6 linked regions of the Homo sapiens genome follow. The protein of the gene in region 5 interacts with the protein of the main gene of each other region in a pairwise test. Each region holds a gene or a part of one and is shown on either strand. Other genes may lie near its edges.

Evidence for each region.
Region 1: the proteins of TMEM19 (region 5) and ELOVL4 interact in binary tests that used the Homo sapiens proteins (3 or more experiments, as listed by UniProt).
Region 2: the proteins of TMEM19 (region 5) and MC4R interact in a two-hybrid assay, tested with the Homo sapiens proteins (one large-scale study listed by BioGRID and IntAct).
Region 3: the proteins of TMEM19 (region 5) and TLCD4 interact in binary tests that used the Homo sapiens proteins (3 or more experiments, as listed by UniProt).
Region 4: the proteins of TMEM19 (region 5) and GORAB interact in binary tests that used the Homo sapiens proteins (3 or more experiments, as listed by UniProt).
Region 6: the proteins of TMEM19 (region 5) and LY6E interact in binary tests that used the Homo sapiens proteins (3 or more experiments, as listed by UniProt).

The regions. Positions count from the first base shown.
Region 1 is NC_000006.12:79,923,554-79,927,053, forward strand, and holds part of ELOVL4 (very long chain fatty acid elongase 4), read right to left. Parts: intron 2,829-3,500; coding exon 2,641-2,828; intron 1,480-2,640; coding exon 1,399-1,479; intron 1-1,398. UniProt on the Homo sapiens protein: Catalyzes the first and rate-limiting reaction of the four reactions that constitute the long-chain fatty acids elongation cycle.
Region 2 is NC_000018.10:60,370,562-60,373,929, forward strand, and holds MC4R (melanocortin receptor 4), read right to left. Parts: upstream 2,215-3,368; 5' UTR 1,789-2,214; coding exon 790-1,788; 3' UTR 501-789; downstream 1-500.
Region 3 is NC_000001.11:95,141,355-95,144,854, forward strand, and holds part of TLCD4 (TLC domain-containing protein 4), read left to right. Parts: intron 1-2,536; 5' UTR 2,537-2,547; coding exon 2,548-2,702; intron 2,703-3,500. Other genes in the region: TLCD4-RWDD3 (TMEM56-RWDD3 protein), read left to right, coding at 2,548-2,702.
Region 4 is NC_000001.11:170,542,166-170,545,665, reverse strand, and holds part of GORAB (RAB6-interacting golgin), read right to left. Parts: intron 3,176-3,500; coding exon 3,074-3,175; intron 962-3,073; coding exon 821-961; coding exon of another isoform or gene 817-820; exon of another isoform or gene 1-816.
Region 5 is NC_000012.12:71,689,082-71,692,581, reverse strand, and holds part of TMEM19 (transmembrane protein 19), read right to left. Parts: intron 2,992-3,500; coding exon 2,878-2,991; intron 1-2,877.
Region 6 is NC_000008.11:143,017,135-143,021,328, reverse strand, and holds the start of LY6E (lymphocyte antigen 6E precursor), read right to left. Parts: upstream 2,801-4,194; 5' UTR 2,743-2,800; intron 447-2,742; 5' UTR 390-446; coding exon 338-389; intron 16-337; coding exon 1-15. UniProt on the Homo sapiens protein: GPI-anchored cell surface protein that regulates T-lymphocytes proliferation, differentiation, and activation.

The sequences.
Region 1 (3,500 bases), on a different chromosome or scaffold from region 5:
GGCAATAGTTATCAGAAGAAAATTTTTCATAGCCAATACATCTGAGTAGTCTCTCATTTTCTCTCAGTCACCTTCTAGGTTTTATTTCCTCCTTAGTCATTTGTTTACATGGCTGCTGTCTGCCTTCTCACCCTCACTAAAATGCCAGCCCCACAAAGGCAGGGCTTTTCACCCCTGTCCCCAGTACCAACATATAGTAGATGCTCAATACATATTTAATGAATAAATAAAACCAACATGACAACCAAGACAGGTGATTTTTCATCAGTCCATAAGTCTTCTAATAGGGAAATGAAGATACGTACATAAAATTGTTAAGTACATTAAACCAATTTTGTCTCCAGTCTTGATGAATACTGATATTTATATATTGTCCACTCCCCATGCCAGGAAACTATTTTTCTCAAGGGAAGCCACTAGATATTATTACTACATATACTATAGGTAACATAAAACATGTTATGTTTTATATGTAATTTCTAGTATGAACCACAGTATATAAGAAGAGTTCAATAAATACGTAATAGAATAAGGTAATCTGTTGTTTCTTTTGCTTAATGTTAATTTTACTCATGTAAGTGAATGGAAAATAAAATATAACATCTTGTTACTAGTGTTTTATTTTTCTGCAAATATAAAAAAACTGAGTTTATGCCAATACAAATTGTTCTATGCCTAATTTCCTAAATATTCCACACTTCACAAAACATTTACTTTTCCTCACTTTCTTAACACATAACTTGGACTCTAAGAGTTTCTACTCTTGAGCAAAAACAAACAAACAAAAATCTAAAATAATGTCTTTAAAATAAACATGAGACTTCTTTGCTTTAACAAGTACTGCATTCTAGTAATTCAATGCATATTCACTCATGCTGCAAAATAAAAAACATTTTTGAGATACAAAAACAAATTTTAAATTAAGTACTTTTTAAAAAAGCATAGTTTTACTGACTCATAACAATCTAGTATAATTTCACTATCATATTAAAGTACATTTTGCCAGGTGTGGTGGCTCACACCTGTAATCTCAGCACTTTGGGAGGCTGAGGCAAGAGGATCCCTTGCGGCTGGGAGTTCAAGACCAGACTGGGCAACATAGCAAGACCCTGTCTCTACAAAAAGTAAAAAAATATCTAGGCATGGTGGGGTACACCCGTAGTCCCAGCTACTTGGGAGGCTGAGGCAGAAGGATCAATTGAGCCCAGGAGTTTGAGGCTGCAGTGAGCTATGATCATACCACTGCACTTCAGTCTGGGGGACAGAGCAAGAAACTGTCTCTAAATGAATGTTAAAGAAACTGTCTCTTAAAAAAAAGTACATTCTATATTTTCACAGACTGGGGCCTATAAAAATCAAACCACTTTTACTGATTAAGAGTATTTTTAATGTACTTACCCTGACTTCATGAACATTATTAGAATAATCCACACTCTGGCAAATATAGCTATATCCCGCATTATATGATCCCATGAATAACTGGAAAAAGAGTAATAATATTTGTAGTAAAGTTTTAGTAAACACAGCATTAAAAACACAATTATATACAAAATGTAGCCTTTCAAATTATTTTAAACACAATATTTTCTTTAAAAATTTCAAATGCATTAAAAATTTCATGCATTCCGATTGCTAGAAGTTACTGTGCATTAATTTGTTCTATAATTAAAATCTAAATTAAAAATCACATGTAAATTTTATACTGAACATTGACTCTATCTATTAAATACTTCACAGTATTAAGAGAAATTTTTATTGCTAGGACTCAGATTTCAAAGTTGTCCTACCTTAACTGGTTTCTATGTTTGATCCAGAGTGGTTTGCATCTAACAAATTAGGTACAGGTATCCAAATAAATTAAAGTGTTCATGAAGTTGAGACTCGAGGCTAAGTTTTCAAGTAAAGAAATATTTCTTTTTCTAAGAAGAGTTATTGTTTATTTTCCTAGCATTACTAGTCAGTTCTCTGGCTTCATACAGAATTTTAATGAGTCTCTTAGGAAACAAATTCTTTATACATATGCAATTTAAAAAATGGCTGTGTCAATCTAGCCTTTAGGATTTCCTTTGAAAATGTTGTGGAGAATTTGCTAGTGCCCAGAAAAGTATATAATGATTAGTAACAACAGCTATATGGCAGTTAATTCATTTTAATTCCAGCCCAAAATACAACATTATGTAATAGGATTTACTTGAAATTGGCATATTTTGATCAGTTACCAAACCAGAAACTACTGAATAAGAATTATAAATAAATAGCTGCTACTGTTTACTGAGTGCTTAATACGTGCCAAACACTATGCAAAAATTATCTTACTTTACTCCGATAATAACCTGAGATGGTAGGTATTTAAGTGGGGAAAACGAGGCTAAGAAAAGTTAAATAACTTTCAATGCCAGAACAGCTAATAAGGGTTACTTTAGAATCCAGTTGGTCTTATTCAAAATTCCACTTTAAACAACTTTCCTATACCTCATGTTTAATATTTTTGTTATTCAAAAGTGAAAAATGTCAAAAATGTACTTTTAGAGTAGCTAACAGTTATGTCTGGGTAAAATATTACAATGATGGTTTTACACATTCTCATTTTTAAATTTCCAATAACCTTGGAAAATTATTAAAGTGATCTTAAAAACATACCTCTCTGAAGATAAAGAGGTTAAGCAAAACCATCCCAAAATTATAGATAATGAGCACTAGACGCATCTGAAAAGGTTCTCGGTCCTTCATCCATTTTGGACCCAGCCACACAAACAGGAGATAAAGAGTGCTTATACTTAGTGTAGGCCAAGGAGACTGCATCAGAGGCCAATTTTCCACACGCTTATCTATAGAGAGAACAAAATACCATAAAATTCATTAATCAGTAAATGTTTTATAAAATACACTTTTTAGGAATCAAGATGTTTCAACTTAATTTCCTAATTTGACTAAATACGGATCACTGTCCTTTGAGTCCCAACAAAAAATACATGGTATAAAAACCAAAGAAACAATACTGACTCCTGCAAGTGGCTTTTGAAAATTATGCTTCATTACTTATGTCACACATTATGTTTTACAGAGACCCTACAGAACAAAAACAAGAAATAAAGCGCACTAAAAACAGAGGTGGTTATCTTGGGATGAAAAGTTAATGAAAAACTTCATACACAGAAAATAAATATGTTAAGGAAACATTTGTCTTCCATATTATACACGTGAAATTTATCAGGGCAGCTTGGAGGCTGCTCTGTGTGTCCACTCCTAAAGCAGGCAAGAATGTAACTGGAGAGGTACGTACGGGGCGATGGTAGCCATTTGCTGAAATATCTCGAGACACTGAAGACAAGAGTACAGGGGCACTGAGAGATTAAGTTAGGGTTAATTACAATTCTATAATGTAAACAGTCACCATATTCAAGACATTTTTCTAACTTTTTCATTGAGAACATGCACCTATTTTATTCCCATGAATAACTAACTTGAATGTTTTTCTCTAGAGCTGTAAATCGCATAAC
Region 2 (3,368 bases), on a different chromosome or scaffold from region 5:
TTATTAATATTGTTTAGGGATAATTTGGTAACAGGAAATTTAGCTTGACATGGCAACTTAGGTTTTCCAGGACACTTTCATCCCTATAGCTGCCTTTTCCCACCCACCCCAAACCGAATTGCCTGTGTGAAATATCAGGCTGTTTGCTAAGGGAGATGAATCTTTCTGTGTCTGAGAAGTACACATAGTTTTCTAACTCAGCATCTCTCTTTTTTCAGCACCTGTTTTTCTCTCTAGAGGAGCTTCATTTCTACTTCTGCACAGGGAGGATGAACAAACCTTTAATTAAATTACTTGAAATTTCAGTGATGATATTTTTAAAAATGATTATACATCTATTCTTTAAATATTTTCCCTTAACTGCTAGAATGAACTCTCTACATTTCAATGGTGGATAATATAATATAATAAAGCATTTATTAGAATATGTTTAATGAGGCTCTGATTTCTATGTTACGAAAGCACGCAAAGTGTCCAATGCTTATGAATAACACGAAGGAGACATTGTTAAGCTTTTAATAAGGACTTTTCTTTTTGTAAATCCACAGTGCCTACAACCTATAACATAGATTCATATTTTATGGCCAAAAAAGTAGCATGACATTGGAAATAATACAGAGACTGGGCATTTTTTCTCATTAAAAATCATAGGCTTAAATTTACACAATGGATATTCTCAACCAGTACCCTACACGGAAGAGAAAGCTGTTGCAGAAGTACAATATTCAGGTAGGGTAAGAGTGAAAAAGTCTCTTATGCATGTTCCTATATTGCGTGCTCTGTCCCCATTTAATATCTGCTAGACAAGTCACAAAGGCCTCCCAGGGGATAGCAACAGATGATCTCTTTGAAGGTTTTCCTCAGTTCTTGACTCCGGAGTGCATAAATCAGAGGATCGATGATTGAATTACACATGATCAGTATGAGATACAAGTTAAAGTGAGACATGAAGCACACACAATATGGATTCTGAGGACAAGAGATGTAGAATATTAAGTGGAGGAAGAATGGGGCCCAGCAGACAACAAAGACGCCAATCAGGATGGTCAAGGTAATCGCTCCCTTCATATTGGCACCTTGGCGGATGGCACCAGTGCCGGGGAGGACAGCAATCCTCTTAATGTGAAGCCTGGCCATCAGGAACATGTGGACATAGAGAGAAGCCATGAGAGCCAGCATGGTGAAGAACATGGTGATGAGGCAGATGATGACAGCACTACTATCTGAGTAAATGATGAACAAAATGCCTGAAACCGTGCAAGCTGCCCAGATACAACTTATGATGATCCCAACCCGCTTAACTGTCATAATGTTATGGTACTGGAGAGCATAGAAGATAGTAAAGTACCTGTCCACTGCAATTGAAAGCAGGCTGCAAATGGATGCAAGCAAGGAGCTACAGATCACCGAGTCAATGACATTATCAATATTCACTGTGAAACTCTGTGCATCCGTATCTGTACTGTTTAATAGGGTGATGACAATGGTTTCTGATCCATTTGAAACGCTCACCAGCATATCAGCCACAGCCAAGCTGCAGATGAAAAAGTACATGGGTGAATGCAGATTCTTGTTCTTGGCTATTGCCACAATCACTAAGATATTCTCCAACAAGCTGATGACACCCAGAGTCACAAACACCTCAGGAGAGACAAAAAGTTGCTCGTAGCACCCTCCATCAGAGTAGCCTTTTCCAAGGGACTCACTGGCATTGCTGTGCAGTCTGTAACTGCTGCGGTTCCAGAGGTGCAGAGAAGTGTGCATCCCACGGTGGGTGGAGTTCACCATGCTGGCAGGAGAATTCCAGTGTCCCCCTGAATTGATTTAACCTCCTGGGTCAGGGAGTCGTCTCAGTTATTTCCTCCAAGTCTTTATCTGTCTGAAAGTTGTGAGGCTAAAATTGCCATGCCTGCTGTGAGTAAATGTCACAAGTCCAGAGCTTGACATGGAGTTTTTAGTCTCTTTTAGGTACGACTCTAATCATCATCACTTTAAAATCTTGGGCTTCAAAATATTCATTCTCAGTTGAAAGAGTCTGCTCTTTGCTTTCTTGTTCTCACTTCTGCTTTAACTTTAATCTTATGCATTCAAGTCTGTTCAAAATAATTTTCCTTGAAGCTGCCATGCCATTGGGAGACGAATCTGTGCGCACATGCTCACATCGGCTGCCTCTCGGAAGCTTCTGTTTCCAGCCTGAGCGTTGCTTTGAGTGTTAGGGGCTGTAGGCGCCAGCTGCTGATTTTTATGATGTGTGGAGAGAAAAAAAACATGTTCACGGTGGCTCCTCCTCTGCTTCCTTCTGACCAATCCCAATGCAATGGGAGTCTGTGAGACAGGATTATGTTTCAGAGACACAAATTGCAGGGTGACACAGATTCAGATGCAGAAGCTCCTGAAGTCTGAAGTCGAGAAGCAAGCCGGATAAGAGACTGAATTTCCCTTTTTAAGTTTTCAAGGGAAACAACTTGATCCCTAGAGGCCATTCTGTGATATCAAAACAAGCTATCTTCAGGCAGCCAGGTTCATTCTTATGTAAAAGACATCATGTGTGTGTGTAAAATGAAATGGAAAGTATACTGTCTTATGTTCCTGAAACAGATACTCTGCTTTTTGGCTAGGATACTGAATTTATTTACCTTCTTAATTTTTTGTTTTTATTAAGAACCCAGCCAGTAGTGGTTCAGTTAAAATACCTGAAAAACAGAGAGGATATTTAATGATACAGATAGACATGGTATGGCTGGAAGAACTATGTAGGTAGCTATAAATTATGAATGGGTTCAAAAGGGGTTGATTTTAATGCACTAATATCCCATATTTCTCTATTGAGGAGTTTGTGTTATAGCTGAAAAAAGGTGCTTTTTATTTACAATATTTTAAACTCATACGGCATTAATGTAACTATGCTTACACTGAACTCAGGAAAATAATAAGCTGCATTCTGTTTTTTTTTTTTAAGCAACTTTTTTTTAAACCTCCAGAGTTTAACGTATCGTAAGTTGAACCGACAAATACCTAGTAACTTTACTTATCAAGCCAAGACTGGTGATACTAGTTAGTTATTGAAGTTTCTGAATATTTTGCTTAAGGTGGTTTGAAAGATGGCAGCAAAGTTACTTTCCAAATTAACTGAACAACAGATTATACAAAATTTTGTATATTCTTTTCTTCTATGATTATTTTTGGTTTTAGTGCTCTATAGTTTGTAGCTGCTTATTTCAGGGTTAATTCTGAATCTCAGTTACTTAGGTTGGGAATGTATCCTCTTTCCTTTTGTGACAGAGACAATACTAAGTATTGTTCCTGAGCATTGAGATAAATTAACGTCTTCCATCCACCTTTGGAATTGGGTAGGACCTTATGACTAA
Region 3 (3,500 bases), on a different chromosome or scaffold from region 5:
TAAATGCTTTGTATACATTGAATTTTAACAAACTAAATGAGCAGCCCGTGCCCACCTTCTGCTCTAGGATCAGCAGAGAGCATACGAAAGTCTTCAGGGGAAACCTCCTCACATTTAAGATTAGATTCTCCATTCTCTTCTGATTACTGATTATATTTTTTTTCCAATTTTGTGTCCATCTGGCCTCCAGATACCTATTTGCTTTAATCTTAGAAAAGCATTATTCTCCTTACATCCCACTTAGCAAATTATGGTAATGCTTAATTTATGTACAAAACTTTTATGTATTGTTTGGTTAATATTAAACCTAGGCTAAAAGACCACAAATTAAAATTTTAATACCCAATAAACATATGTTGAATTAAAAAGAAGTAAAAGAGCAGTAAAGTTAATGGAGTCTCATAGAGAAGAATTGTAATATCAATATTTTTACCAAGTACACACACACACACACACACACACACACACACACACACACAAAGAATGAGGAAAGAATTCATTATAGACATATGAATTCTGATGGAAGGGGCCCTGTGGGAGATTGATTCTTATTACGATATCCTGGTTGGAAGGGAATGAAGTGGGGTTATTGCTAGTGCAGTCAATGACTTGGCTTTTCTCTGGTGAATTGATTTCAGTAGGTGACTTTATTTCTTTGCATTAGGCAGCTGGAAATGTGTATTGATTTATTTCTTTTTCATTTGAGAATCAGCTTTATCAAAGATGGAGCCATAGAAATGCTGTATTTGCTGGATATGAGCAAATGCCTTAGTGCCTTTTTTTTTTTTTTTTTGCTCTGAATGTTCCTAAGATTTTTAGGAGCCAAATAAAGTTCAGCTCAATGAAATAGAAAACACACTTTGAGTGTGCATATATGCATAGTACTATTCTTTCTGCTAACTCGATTGTTAAGACCTGAAGCTCTTTTATAAAAATCTTTTTTTTTTTTTTTTTTTTTAATAAGGGATACAAAGCCCTGCAGGCCTTTTGCTCCAAGAATGTGTGTGATTGAAGAGCATGTTTTAAAAGTTAAATTCTCATTTGTGCAGTGACGGTGTTAGCGGTGGAGGGTGTTCAGGTTCTTGGCATTTTGAACAAAGAATTAGACAAAATGCACAAAGCAAGGAAGGAATGAAGCAATGAAAGTAGCGATTTATTAAAAATGAAAGTACACTCCACAGGGTGGGAGTTGGTCCTACCATAGGGGCTCAAGAGCCCGGTTACAGAATTTTCTAGGGCTTAAATACCTGCTACAGGTTTCCCATTGGCCACTTGTTGTACACCCCATGCAAATGAAGTAGTGGCCCACAATCTAGGCCGGTTGTGGTGCCTCACGCCTGTAATCCCAGCACTTTAGGAGGCTGAGGTGGGCAGATCACGAGGTCAGGAGTTCAAGACCAGTCTGGCCAACATGGTGAAACCCCGTCTCTACTAAAAATACAAAAATTAACCGAGTGTGGTGGTGCGTGCCTGTAATCCCAGCCGCTCGCGATGATGAGGCAGCAGAATTGCTTGAATCCGGGAGGCGGAGGTTGCAGTGAGCTGAGATCTATCGCACCACTGCACTCTAGCCTGGGGGACACAGCAAGACTCCATCTGGAGGCGGGGTTGGGGGCGTGGCGGAGGGGAGGGGAAGTTACACTTCTGTGCAAAGGAAGACTTGGCTGGCAGTCAGTCAGATTGGTTGGGGAAAGCAACCAATCAGAGGCTGAAATGAAGTTATAAAGTTATACTCCTATGTAAACGTCTGATTGGTTGCGGAAAGCAACCAATCAGAGGTACTTTCAGTTTTCCATTTGCCACTCAGAAAAGTGAGGGAGGGGTTTTCAAAGCGAGTAACCTCCAGTTATTTTGTTAGTTAGGTGTGTAAAGTTGGGCTTTTCTGTTTGATTTAGTTCTAGGAAGTCAGTATGAATCGGCCTTAGGTTCCCTGCCTCCAGACCCTATTGTCTTGCCTCAACAGTGCAATGGCTCTTTGCTAAGACTGTGTTCTTCTTAAGATTTTAATTTTGTTTTAAATGTTGTTTGTCCTGCTCCAAAATTAGTTTTTTAATTATGGAATTATTTTTTGTTTTGTTATTACAGGCAGTGTTAGTTCTATGGTTTTTGGCTTGATTGTTTCTTAGAAATTATGTAACCAACTCTTTCATATCATAGATGAGAAATTGAGGGATAAAGAAATCGATTTGTCATAAATTTAATTGAAATATTATTAGAAGAATAGTTTTTACTTATAGTACTTGAAATTCTCTGTTAATATTAAGACTTAGATAATTTTGAATATCATGATGTTAAAATTATAAATGACACCTCTAATATTGAGATCTTTAAGATAAAACAGACATAAGATACATGACAAATAGATGGTAAAGGTGAAGAAATATACAAAAGGTCAAAAATTCTTATAGTTTATATTCTTAACATTTGTTCTAAATTTTAAAAATTACTAAAATTACAAGACATATTTCTTAAAATAAAAAAATTACTCTAGGTTTATTATGAGACAACAATTTATAGCTGTCATTTATCTTAACAGGTTGAAGAAATATGGAGATCAACACAAAACTGCTCATCAGTGTTACCTGTATCAGCTTTTTCACCTTTCAGCTTCTTTTCTACTTTGTAAGTTACTGGTTTTCAGCAAAAGTTTCTCCAGGTTTCAATAGTCTCAGCTTCAAAAAGAAGATTGAATGGAACTCAAGGTAAAGCATATGAAAATGTAATTGATGACAAGAAACTAGTTTATGAGATAAAATTATTTAAAATATTTCAAAAAAGTATTTCATTTAGGATCTAATGTAAGGCCAAATTTTTATTTGATCTTAGAAATAAAAGGAAAAACAAGTAGATGATCTCATGCAAAAAAAAGTTTAAGAATTCATATATTGAAAGATGTTAGGAGAAATTTACTTAAGTTTCTGAGGAAGTGTGTGAAGATGAAGTAGACTCCAGCTGACTGTGGATGAATACTAGTACTTTCGTGTTCTTCTTTGAAATATTTATAACAAACATATTCTTTGGAAACAAAGATGGAAGAAAAAATTAGTTGTACTTTTGAGTAGCTTATACCATACAGCATTGGCCAACTTAGCCAGACCTGGGGCAGTTAGACTCTACACATCAGGGAACAAAGTGTACAGTCAGTGCATATGAATCTTTTAATGAACTTTGCATTATAATTTAGAGCCCTCCAGCATTTATTATTTTGTTATATAATTTTAAAGTAAAAATTTCTTTTTAGTTTTTTTTTTTTAAACAGAAAAGTAAATGGAGAAAGAATTAGACATCTATTGATATAGAAATCTGCTGGAGTTTTATTTTTTATTTTTATTTTATTTGTTTATTTATTTTTTTGAGACAGAGTCCCGTTCTGTCGCCCAGGCTGGAGTGCAGTGGTGAAATCTTGGCTCGCTGCAACCTCTGCCTCCCAGGTTCCAGTGATTCTCCTGCCTCAGCTTCCTGAGTAGCTGGGATTACAGGCATGCGCCACCATGCCAAGC
Region 4 (3,500 bases), on a different chromosome or scaffold from region 5:
AGTGTAACAGAGTAAGATAGAAAACTGAGTCATTAACACAGCATTCCCTTGTGAAAAAAGACAAACCAGGATGATTAAAGCAATGTTGAAAGGGCTGAAAACCCTGAAATTGGACATATTTTTTTGCCCTTTTATCTGTCTGCAAAGTCCATGTAATTCATTACATGTGTTAGTTCATTTTAAAAATACTCCATGGTATTTTTTCTCTTTTAAAAAATGCCAATGGTTGAAACCAAGGAAACATATATTAAACCATTTCATACAGAGTATAATTGAAAGGAAAAAAAAAGAGAAAATATTTCAAATTTCCAAGACAGAGGATATGCTTAAAATATTCATAAGCTTTTAAAAACTAAACTAGATCCTCTTACTCTGATGAAAGCTAAAGTGAGGACTAGACTTCAATCCTATAGGACTATATCAGATATCAAAAATTTTAATGGAAAGAACACAGACTTGGTGTCAGAGTAACAGTTTTGGCGAAACCACTCAGATATTTACTTTGCTAGATGCTGAAAGATGAGCAAAAACACTTCCAAACATTAAATAGCTGAGGGTTTCGCAGCAAAGACTAAAACGTAAATAAATAATGCAAGAACTGCTCTAATGGCACACGAACAAGGTTAACTAGTAGGGCAGAGTTAAGGAAGACTTCACTGAAGAGGAGACACTTGAATTAGCACAAAAGAAGAATAAATACAGCACTGAATGGGGTTGTTTTGAGGCTTCAATGATGATATACATAAAAGCCCCTGGAACAGCTGGCAATAAACATTAATTAAATCATACTCCTTGTTCAGATTCAATTTCCCCAACTCACCGAGCGTATGAATAGTCTAAGCTGGCCTGATCAATCCGGTTCCTGAGAATTCCAATGTCAGCTGACACCATGTCATCTAAAGCCTGCAACTCCTTCTGGATCCGCTTTAGTTTCATGGTCTCTGCCTGAGTTCTTTTGGATCTAGAAAATCAGGTATGTGAGTGGGAAAATAAGAACATTTTAAAACCATGTGTCCATATACAATGTAAGTGAAAAAGCAAGATACTGCATATACATTTATAATTTATATTTTAAAAGTTAGAAAAAAATCAGAAAAATTGAAATAAAGTAAAAGCTGGTTAACATTTGAGTTTTTGAAATTTTATATTTGCATGTTTCATAAAGTAACAAATAAGTCTAAAAAAACTCAGCAAATAGTTCATTTTAGATTGATATTCATTCTGTAAAGAGAACAAACACTAAAAGAATATATCTGTGTTCCCTTTACATTGAAACATTCAACAGAGCTTTCCAAATTTCTAGTCTTTAATTCTTCCTCTTGCTAAGCCCATTTTCATTTGTCTGATACTTACCTGACATTAAGAACAGATAGATGTCTATACTAAACCACACCTCTTTATATATCTGAGAACATCCACTTAGTTTTAACTTTCTTGGGACCCATTTCCCCAAACTTTTATTGCTTTGATTCTTGTTCTCTAGGAAAACTACTAGTTACGAAAATTCTTTATGGAGCTGAACATCAAAACACTCATTTTCCTTATTTAAAAGCACATCCAACCTCATAATTTCTCAATCCCCTCTCCCAAGTACAATATATACTTAAGAAAGGGAACAAACAAATAAAAAAGCAACCCTTTAATCATGATTTCACTCATTTCAAATTTTCACACACATTGTGAAGGAAGAAGAAAAATCCCCACATAAATCCACCATGTTACATAGCACATTCTCTTGATTTCTACTCTTAGGCATTTACCCTTCCTTTCTGCCTACAAAACTTCACTTAACAGTATGATTCTTTTACGTCAAGTACTTCATTGTCCATTTATTAATAGTTCAAACGTTGTATTTCCTTACACTTCTGTTTATACTGGTGCTGTCTAAAATCAAAAGCACTTATGAGAAGAACTGCTGAGCCTGTACATCTTTTTGTAAAACCACAGAAAACAGCCTTCCCATCTCTTAGAAATTGAAGACTACTAAAATGCTTTAATTATTTTTAAATAATCACTTACCAAAAAAAAAAAAAAAGAGGGCACTACTCTTTTATCTGCTGGTTTTTTCCTTTGAAACATAGTAACTCAGTGAGTTGCATTATTTCCTATGCTTCAAGAAAGATCAAGGTGTACCAGTAGTAGAAAAAGAAAAATCACCATTTCTCAACTACACTCACTCCTCTGGCAGACAAAATTCTGAACTACTCTTATACCCATCACCTTCTTCCCTCTTCTCCTGCCCCTACACATACTCTAGCTTCAAGCAGTAACAGTTTGACAGACTTTTCTGGAAGTCTAAAAAGAAAATGTACTTCCTTGCATTTAGTTTTCACTATTCACAACCATGGATATATTGACTAAGTTTAGTTTCCTAAGGCCACAGGAGATTAGACAGAAACTACAAACTCAGCAAGAGTGGTGGGGGATGGGAAGAATGATTCCAATGGGAATGTTGTTGTGTGCGGCTGGTACAATGCAGTAAATGTGAAGGGGCTGCTGATAGACACTGGAAGGTGAAAGAAAAATTGAATCTCACACAGTGCTCATAATAATGACCCTGAGTCATCAATAAAAAGTTAAACTATATCATGTATCTTCTACTTGTGGAGGCGGGGCAAATTATTTAAGAAAAATGCCCATAGGAAATCCAATTAAGATTCATGGGAGTATGTCACTTATGTAGAAAACCTTATTCCTCTACACATCAAATGATTAAGGCCTCCCCACATAAAAATTAAAACTTGCATTTGTTGCTAATTTACATATACTGATAGCTATTTACTGCTTCCCTTATGAATGTGTAGATGGTTAAAACTGGGAGCACTAATGAAGGTCTTTAAAACTGCAACTATATTTACAAATTTAATATGCTCTATGCTTAAAAAGTTCTCTTTAATAAATTATAACTAGTATTTCAGTATCACTTATAAAGCATAATTTGTTTAGTTAGTCTTAAAAGTAATGGTTGAAGAAAAAATATCAGTTTATTAAAAGAGACATGGGAAAACAAATATAACACATGACACAACTGGTTACAGGTTACAAACAGCCTCTCCTGGTTCAGGTGCCTCACCTTTCTGCAATAGCTTTAGCCAAAAGAGCTTTTTTACGTTTATTTTTCTCTTCCATTAGCCGTTGTTCTTGTTGGAGGACTTCCCAACGAGATTTTTCTTGCCTAGGGGGCAAAAAAAGCATAAAAATGAGTTTATGAAAGAAAAAGAAACTGCTACCCTATCCAACACCTTACCAGTCTCAGTCCTCTAAGTATAAAATTTAATCAAGAAGATTTATGTATATGTTCTTTCAAAAGTCCTCTTAAAAGAAACCCATCTGCAGTTCATTATTTTGCTCTAATGGGAACAAAGACTACGATCTAAAGTAAAGAGGCTTACATAAATTGGACCTCTGAAATCCATTATATATATAATCTAGGAATCCACAAACTGGAAGCCAGAATACTGTGGCATGTGTTTAGGAGTACAAAGAAATTTGTGTAAGTT
Region 5 (3,500 bases):
CCATCTACTACTACATTTGATCATTTCCAACTCTAAGGGCTGGCAGCAAATAAATGACTTCATGAGATTTGAATCCTATTCAATAAGAATACTTCATTAAGCACTAAGAAGCCTAGAACCAGAAACTTTTTAAGTGAGAATACTTCATTTAATTTTATTCTGCAAGTGTTAGTTTCAGTTTTCTGCAGTTTTCATTGTTTTCTGCCCAGAACTGTCTCTTCATCCTTCAAACCTCTCTATATACTTCTCTATTAATGCAGATGATAATAATAATAATCAGCATATATAATGAGGTAGGAGAGAGGTTGAGGGGGAGAAGTAATGTGAGCAGAGGTACGGAGAAAGAAAGAAATGTTTGTGGCAATGCCAATTTAATAGTCATTCACGTATAAAAATATGGTTGAAACTACATAATCACTAACAATGAACATTTTTGTATAGTTTACAAAGATGTGTTGCCTCATATAATATCTTGTTTGAGATTTACCAATAAGTCCATAAGATATTACTATTGGAGGTATTTCATAAGAGATTAAGAAAGTGAGTCTCCTAGGAGTTAGGCAGCATGCCCAAGTTTGCACTGGTAACAGGTGGCAGTGTTAGGTTTCATATCTTTTAATTCTAATCAACATAGGAGAGGAGCAGATGTCCAAGGGCTACAAGGCAGCCCTTCTAGCAGCAGGAAAGAAACAACAGTAGAGATCGTAAAAGTCAGAGAAGCAGGACAATATACAGCACAGAAGCCCAAGGAAGACAGAATTTCAAGAAGGACTTGACCTTTTTTTCTATAAGAATAATAAATTCCAAGGCAATGATATCTAAGAGCTTTTTTTTTTTTTCTTTTTGACACAGGGTATCACTCTGTTGCCCAAGCTGACTGAAGTGGCACGATCAGCCTCCTGTGTAGTTGGGACTACAGGTGTGCACTACCACGCCAGGCTAATTTTTTTTTTTTTTTTTTTTTTTTTTTTTTTTTGTAGAGGTGAAGTCTCATTATGCTGTCCAGGCTGGTCTCAAACTCCTGGACTCGAGTGATCCTTCTGCCTTGGCTTCCCAAAGTGCTGGGATTACAGGTGTGAGCCACTGCGACCAGCCCAGAAAGAACTTTTTTTAGCAAAGCATAAGTCCATGTTATTATATTTAAGCAGAGATTGTTCAAATTATGTTATAAATGATTTAATACTACCAAAGTGCTAACAGCAGTGCCTGGTACATAGAAAGTGTGACATAAGCATTTGTTAAATAGATAAAATATAACCACTCCTAATACTTATTGATTATATGGTAAAATAAAATTCATATAAAAATATCAGTATGTCTAGTTAACTTTAATTCTCAATTACCCCACAAAAGGAAAAGAAATCTCACAATATAACTTAAACAGTATTTCTTAATTATGAAGAGAATTGGCATGATTTTGAAGAACTCTGCCTAATAATAATAGTTACAAGCACTGAATAAATGTTGGCTATGTGTCCAGGCAATGAGGTAAGGACTTTAAATTATCGCATTTAATTCTCTCTATGCCCTAAAAATGAAATAAGGGGGAGATCCAGGCCTTGTGGAGCCCAAAGTTTATATAATTTGGGGTTCCCTCTTTAAGAAAAAGAGTACAACAGTTTTGACCTTTGCAAAATTGACAAAACCATAGGACCACGAGAGCACATTGCTAGAGTTTATTCAATTTTATCTCTCACTTCTTTTCCTATCGTTACTATTTTCTAGTCAAATGAGCCCTATTATTCTTACTCTCAAATAAGCCTCTAAAATATCTGGACTTTTGCACTTGTTATTCTGTCAGCCTGGAACATGATTCTGTCAGATCTCATTGCTAGCTTCTTCAGATACCAGTGCAAAATGACCTCCGTAGAGAAAAGCACCTGACACCATTTACAGAAGAATGCACTACATCTTCCAACATACACACTTTACAATTATCTTTTCATTTTTCTCATAAACTTCATCATTACCTGAACAGTTTTATATATTTTATTTATTATCTATCTGCCCTAAAGAATATAAGTTCCATGAGAACTGACACCACGTTCTTTTTGTTTACAGATCTATCCCAAGTTTTTAGAACAGTAGTACATACCAGTAAGTGTTCAATAAAAATTTGCTAAAAGAGGGGTCAGGCATGGTGGCTCATACCTGTAATCCCAGCACTTTGGGAGGCCCAGGCAGGTGATCACTTGAGACCAGGAGCTCGAGACCGGCCTGGTCAACATGGCGAAACCCTGTCTCTAATAAAAATACCAGAAAAAATTAGCTGGGCATGGTGGCACACACCTGTAGTCTCTACTCAGAGGCTGAGGCACAAGAATCGCTTGAATCCAGGAGGAGGAGGTTGCAGTGAGCCGATCATGCCACTGCACTCCAGCCTGGGCAACAGAGCAAGACTGTCTCGGGAAAAAAAAAATTGCTAAAAGAATGAATGCATATCCTGTTCTCAACTCAGTTTTGGAAAATTAATCCAGAACACTAAGTTTGGACTGCTCTGTTTTGAGATTACTAACAGCAATTTCCAAAAGTTATTCTCTCCAAATGCTCTATTTTACATATAGGAGGAGTGCTCCAGTGTTTCTGCTGGTAGAAGACTAATCAAACTAAAGGAGCAGAATAGTCAAGGTTCATCTATCCTATTAATCTACTTTGTATCAATCACAGAGTTTAATTTGTATGTTACACTAAAAGTGTACGTTAGTTTCTGAAATTTTGACAATAGGAATGCTGAGCAAGATGTAACTTTATCATTGTCTAAAATATATAACTGTGATTTGTAGTCAGTCTCATATATTCAGAATTTAGAAAACATAAATTTAAATTATATAAGCAAGCACTTAGTAGTTACTGTAAACATTCAAAATAAAAACATACCTCCTAGAGCCCCACTGTGATCTAGACTTTTCTTTTTAAGGCCATTAGAGACGATCAGAACAGGAACAACAACAGAAAACAGCCAACGCCACGGAGAAATAGGTCGTAAGTTACCTGAAAAATTATAAAGGTGGAGCACAAATTGTGTGAAGTTTGCACAGGTTAGTTTTGGCAGTAAACTTCCGTTACTGCTTTTAGACTAAAATACTGTCATAAGTACAAACACCAAGATGAAGTCACCAAAGAAATATATAGTCATGCATCACTTAAAGATAGGGATATGTTCTGAGAAATGCATCCTTAGGTGATTTCATGGTTATGCAAACGTCAGACTGTACTTACACACACCTAGATGGTAGAGCCTACTACACACTTAAGCTATATGCTATAGCCTATTGGTCCTAGGCTACAAACCTGTAAAGCATGTTACTGTACTGAATACTACAGGCAATTATAACGTATTTGTGTATCTAAACATAGAAAAAGTAGAGTAAAAATATGGTATTATAATCTTATGGGAACATGTTGTATGTGTGGTCTGTCATTGACGAAAACATTGTTAGGCAGAGCATGACTGTATTTATGTTGAGACATGCATGCATATTTTCGGAGAAACAGTCTTA
Region 6 (4,194 bases), on a different chromosome or scaffold from region 5:
ACATCAGCGAGCTGGCTGCGGAAGGAGGACACACCTGTCTCAGGGAAGCCTCCAGTGTCCCTCCCAGGCCTGACCCCAGTGGACATTTACTGAGAAATTACTGTATACCAGGCCCTGGGCTGAAGGCAGAGCAAAGACAGTGACACCCCACCCTGGCCGTCGAGCAGGTCAAGCGACACTCAAACACACAGTGAGACAGTGTGGCCAGGCCGGGTGAGCCCTCTGCTGGGAGCGGCCTGGAAGGACCCCTGGGGCGTCTGCTCAGGGGAGAGGGGTGGAGAGGGAGTGGAGCAGGGCACAGCTGGACAAAGGTCTGGGGTCCCCAAGGGCACCTCACCTCGCTCCACACCCAGAAGGGCAGCCAGCAGCACTGGCAAGAAGATCTTCATTCTGGAGAGGATGGCCGTCCTGCCTGGAGGTCACAAACCAAAGCAGCCTGTCCTGCTCTGGAGAGACACACTGGTTAGGGGGCCGGGTGGTGCCTCACTCCTCCCCAAGACCATGCACCCCCACTTTGCAGATGAGGACACAGACAGCAGAGGGGAAGGGACCTGCCAGCACACAAGGACTTCCCTGCTTCTCTCCTGACCCACTCCTCACTCAGTGCAGACATGCTCTAGGCTATCTCCCTCCTGAAACCTGGCAGGAGGGGGCTGCACAGGCAAGAGGAGGAAACTCAGCAGCCTTCTCAGAACCACAGAAAAGAAGGCAGAGTGAGTGGCCTCTGCCAGTGGTCCTGGGGTGGGGGAATGGGGAATGGGGAATGGTGATCAGTCATAATATTAGCTAGTCTGGGGCTGGGTACAGGGGCTCACGCCTGTAATCTCCATGCTATGTGAGGCCAAGGCAGGAGGATCATATGAGGCCAGGGGTTTGAGACCACCCTGGGCAACACAGTGAGACCTCCTGTTTCTACAAAAAATACAAAAATTAGCCGGGCGTGGTACGTGCCTGTGGTCAGCTACTTGGGAGGCTGAGGTGGGAGGATCTCTTGAGCCAGGGAGTTCAAGACTGAAGTGAACTATGATCATGCCACTGCACTGCAGCCTGGGCAACAGAGTGAGACCCTGTCTCAAAAAAAAGAGAAATCTATATACACATCTATATGTGTATCTGTCAGTGTATATTAGCTAATCTGTATCTAGAATTTTCCTTGGGATGGCTCAGTGTTTTGAGCCCAGGCAGCTCCCCTCACATGGAGACCTGGGGCCAGGTGGGGCATGGCTGAGGGGGAAAGCACTCCCCATTCCTGATGTTACTCAGTTCCGAGGAAAGCACCCCACTCAGTATCTGCTACTCCCCATTCTGTGGCTGGGAAATGGGCTCCGAGAGACAAGGCTGCGTGCCACTGGTCCCACCAGCAGGAAAGGGCCAGATGGGTCGCTGTACTGCTCCTCGGCCTCTGCACAGGACCCTCTGCACTGCTGGAGAAAGAATCTGGAACACACCCAGCTGGGGTCGTGATTCTCTGTTTTGTGAGTGCATGGTGTTGGAGGGGGAGGCTGCTGCCTTCTGTCAGGGACAGCCGTGGGCAGAGGAGTGGGAGGGACATCCCGGGCCTGGGGAGCTAGTGCTGGGCACTGGGGGTAAGGAGGATGCCTCAGAGAACAGATCTGGAGAGGGGCCCGCAGAGGCCCTAAGGGGAGAGCAGCAGGCCAGGACAGTGAGACCTGGGCTGACATCCTGGGGTTGGGAGTGGGAGCCCCAGGTGGCCAAAAACAGTGCCAAGTCCGGCTGGGGCCTATCCCCGCCTCCAGGGAGTAGCCCGAGGAGGAAGGATCTCCAATTCCTTTTCCCCCCACCCCCCTAAAGTGAGGTTCTGGTGTGGGGGGGTCCCTGAGCTGTCTCTGAGGAAGTCCTAGCATACAGGGCCACAAACAGGTCCAGCTGGTGCCGCCACCTGCTCACTGGGTGGCACCCAACCCGCTGGGCCACCAGGCTGAGCTAAGGCACCGGTGGGAGCCGAAGGCAATTAGGAAGGCCGGGTGGGCCATGGAGCCCGGAGGGAGCCAGCCGGCAGGCCGTGGGGGGCGCCCCTGGGGCCCAGGCTGCAGGCTCATGGCTCATCCCCAGGCTCAGGGAAGCTGGCCCCTGGGAGCCAGGTATCTAGGGGCTGCCCAGCCAGCAAGGGGCGGGAGCCTCTCCTGTGTCCCGGAACGGGGAGGGGCCCGGCGGTCCACTCAGGGAGGCTGGGCTCCTTGGACCTCACCGCAAGCACCACCAGTGCCAAAACAAGAAGCGGGGGCGGGTTCCAGTGCTCCGGGGTGATATGCCGGGGGCGGTCAATCCTCCCTTTCCGGCCAGGAGCTCTGCAAGGTCCCGTGCCCCCTCCCCTAGTCCTCAAGGCTGTCCCTCCCGGCCCACGTAGAGGAGCCAGGAGCGTCTGGAGTTGGGTGATGGGCTCCAGTGGCTGCGCAGCCCTGGGGCGGCCGGGAGGCTCCTGGCGGCAGTCTCCGCCCGCTCCCGCCCCAGATCTTTGGAAACATTCGGGGAGGCCTGCGGGGGATGGGAGGAGAAGCTCAGCTCTCTGGGGACCAACCCACCGGCAGCCCCAGCCCCTCTCCTGCGCCTCCCCGTGCGCCCCTCTTGCTCTCTCCCACCCTCTCCCGCCCCGGCCCCCGCAGGGCGCCTTCCGCCGCGCGTGGCTGAGCCGGGGCCGCGTGCACCGCAGCCGAGGCCGCCGGGTCTGAGCGCGTGCGCGCAGGTGGCGGGGGCGTCCCGGCCGGGGGCCCGCGGACTCACCGCCGGGCGGACGCAGGTACCAGCAGCCTGGCCGAGCTCCCCGAACCTCGCGCGCTCTGGACCGCGGCTGGCCCGGAGCCTCCCAGGCAGCCGCGCGGCCCCGGGGCGGGGGCAGGGGCGGGACGCGGGAGGGGCCTCCGGCGGGCGGAGTCGGCGAGCCCGCGGTGGGGGTCCCCGCGCCGCCCAGGCCTACCCCGGCTCCTTGGGATAGATGGGGAAGCTGAGGCCCAGAAGGGGGCTGAGACCACCTCCCAGTTTCCCCAGTGAGGTGGCGCCTGAGCCACGGCCAGGCCCGGCCTCCTTCCACCCGGCCCTGCTGTGCGCGCGGCGGGTGCTGACCTGGCGAGGCCGGACAGGGGACCAGGTCGGGGTGACCGTCACTGACACCTGGACAGTCCTCGTTGTGTTCGGGGTGGGAAGCCCACGGGTGAGCAGACGTGTTTGGGTGTGAGCACGGAGGAGGGGTGCCTCGGAGAGTGTCGGGGAGCAGTGTTGGGGGTCTCGCCTGCGGAGTGGAGCTCGGGAGGGGAGGACGCAGGCACCCCCGCAGCCTGGGATTCCTGAGGTCATCTTGTCCCTGCTTCCCGCTCCAGGCTGGGCTGTTCCTTGGCCATCCCTCAGGCGGGGGTGGGGAGACCGGCAAGGGTTGGGAGGTGGGAGGTTGTGGGTGCTGGCTTCTGCGAGGGCACTGAGGCTCTGCCATCGGTGGGTGCCTCTCCTCCCGCCAGGCCCTCTCCGAGGGGCTGTGGGCGCTGGGGCTCTGCCACCGGCCTGTTCTCCAGTTGACAGTGCGTTTCCTTTCTGGGTGACAGGGCGAGCACCAGGGAGGGGTCTTCTGAACCCCACACGGGAGTAGGGGGAGGGTGTGCGGAAATGTGAGGGTGGGCAGGTGGCCATGTGGTCAGGAGGGGGCTGGGGCTGACAGACACCTGTAACACCCCTGTCTCAAATCTAGGGGTGCAGTCAATGTGGCTGTGTGTGTGTTTTGCATGAGTGAGTGTGTGTGGTGCGTGTGTGTGTGTGTATGGAGGCTGAGGCTGGGGCTGTGTGTGTCACGAGATGTCCTGGCCGTGGTATGATGGCATCGTGGGTGGGGCTTCCACAGCTTTGGGGGCGATGGCCCAGCTGTCTCTGGGGACAGGAGCCTCCAGTAGGCTGTGGCCCGGGGGAGTCCCTGCCTCTGGGTCTTACGTGGGGCACAGGCAGGGCATCTTCCCCTCTGGAATGTTGGCGGTGAGGGCAGGGGGTTCTGTCTCTGCAGCCGGCACCTGGGGCCATCCCTGCCATGGCAGGGGCTCAGTAAGAACTGTGGGACGAAAGCACGGGTGGGTTTGCCCCCTTCAAGACAGGACCCTCTGATTCAGAAAACAAGCTGCATTAGGAGGAGGGCTGTTTGGAAAAAACTCTCAAACCATTTATCCTGTCTCTCACTCAACACAGAAGACATCAACA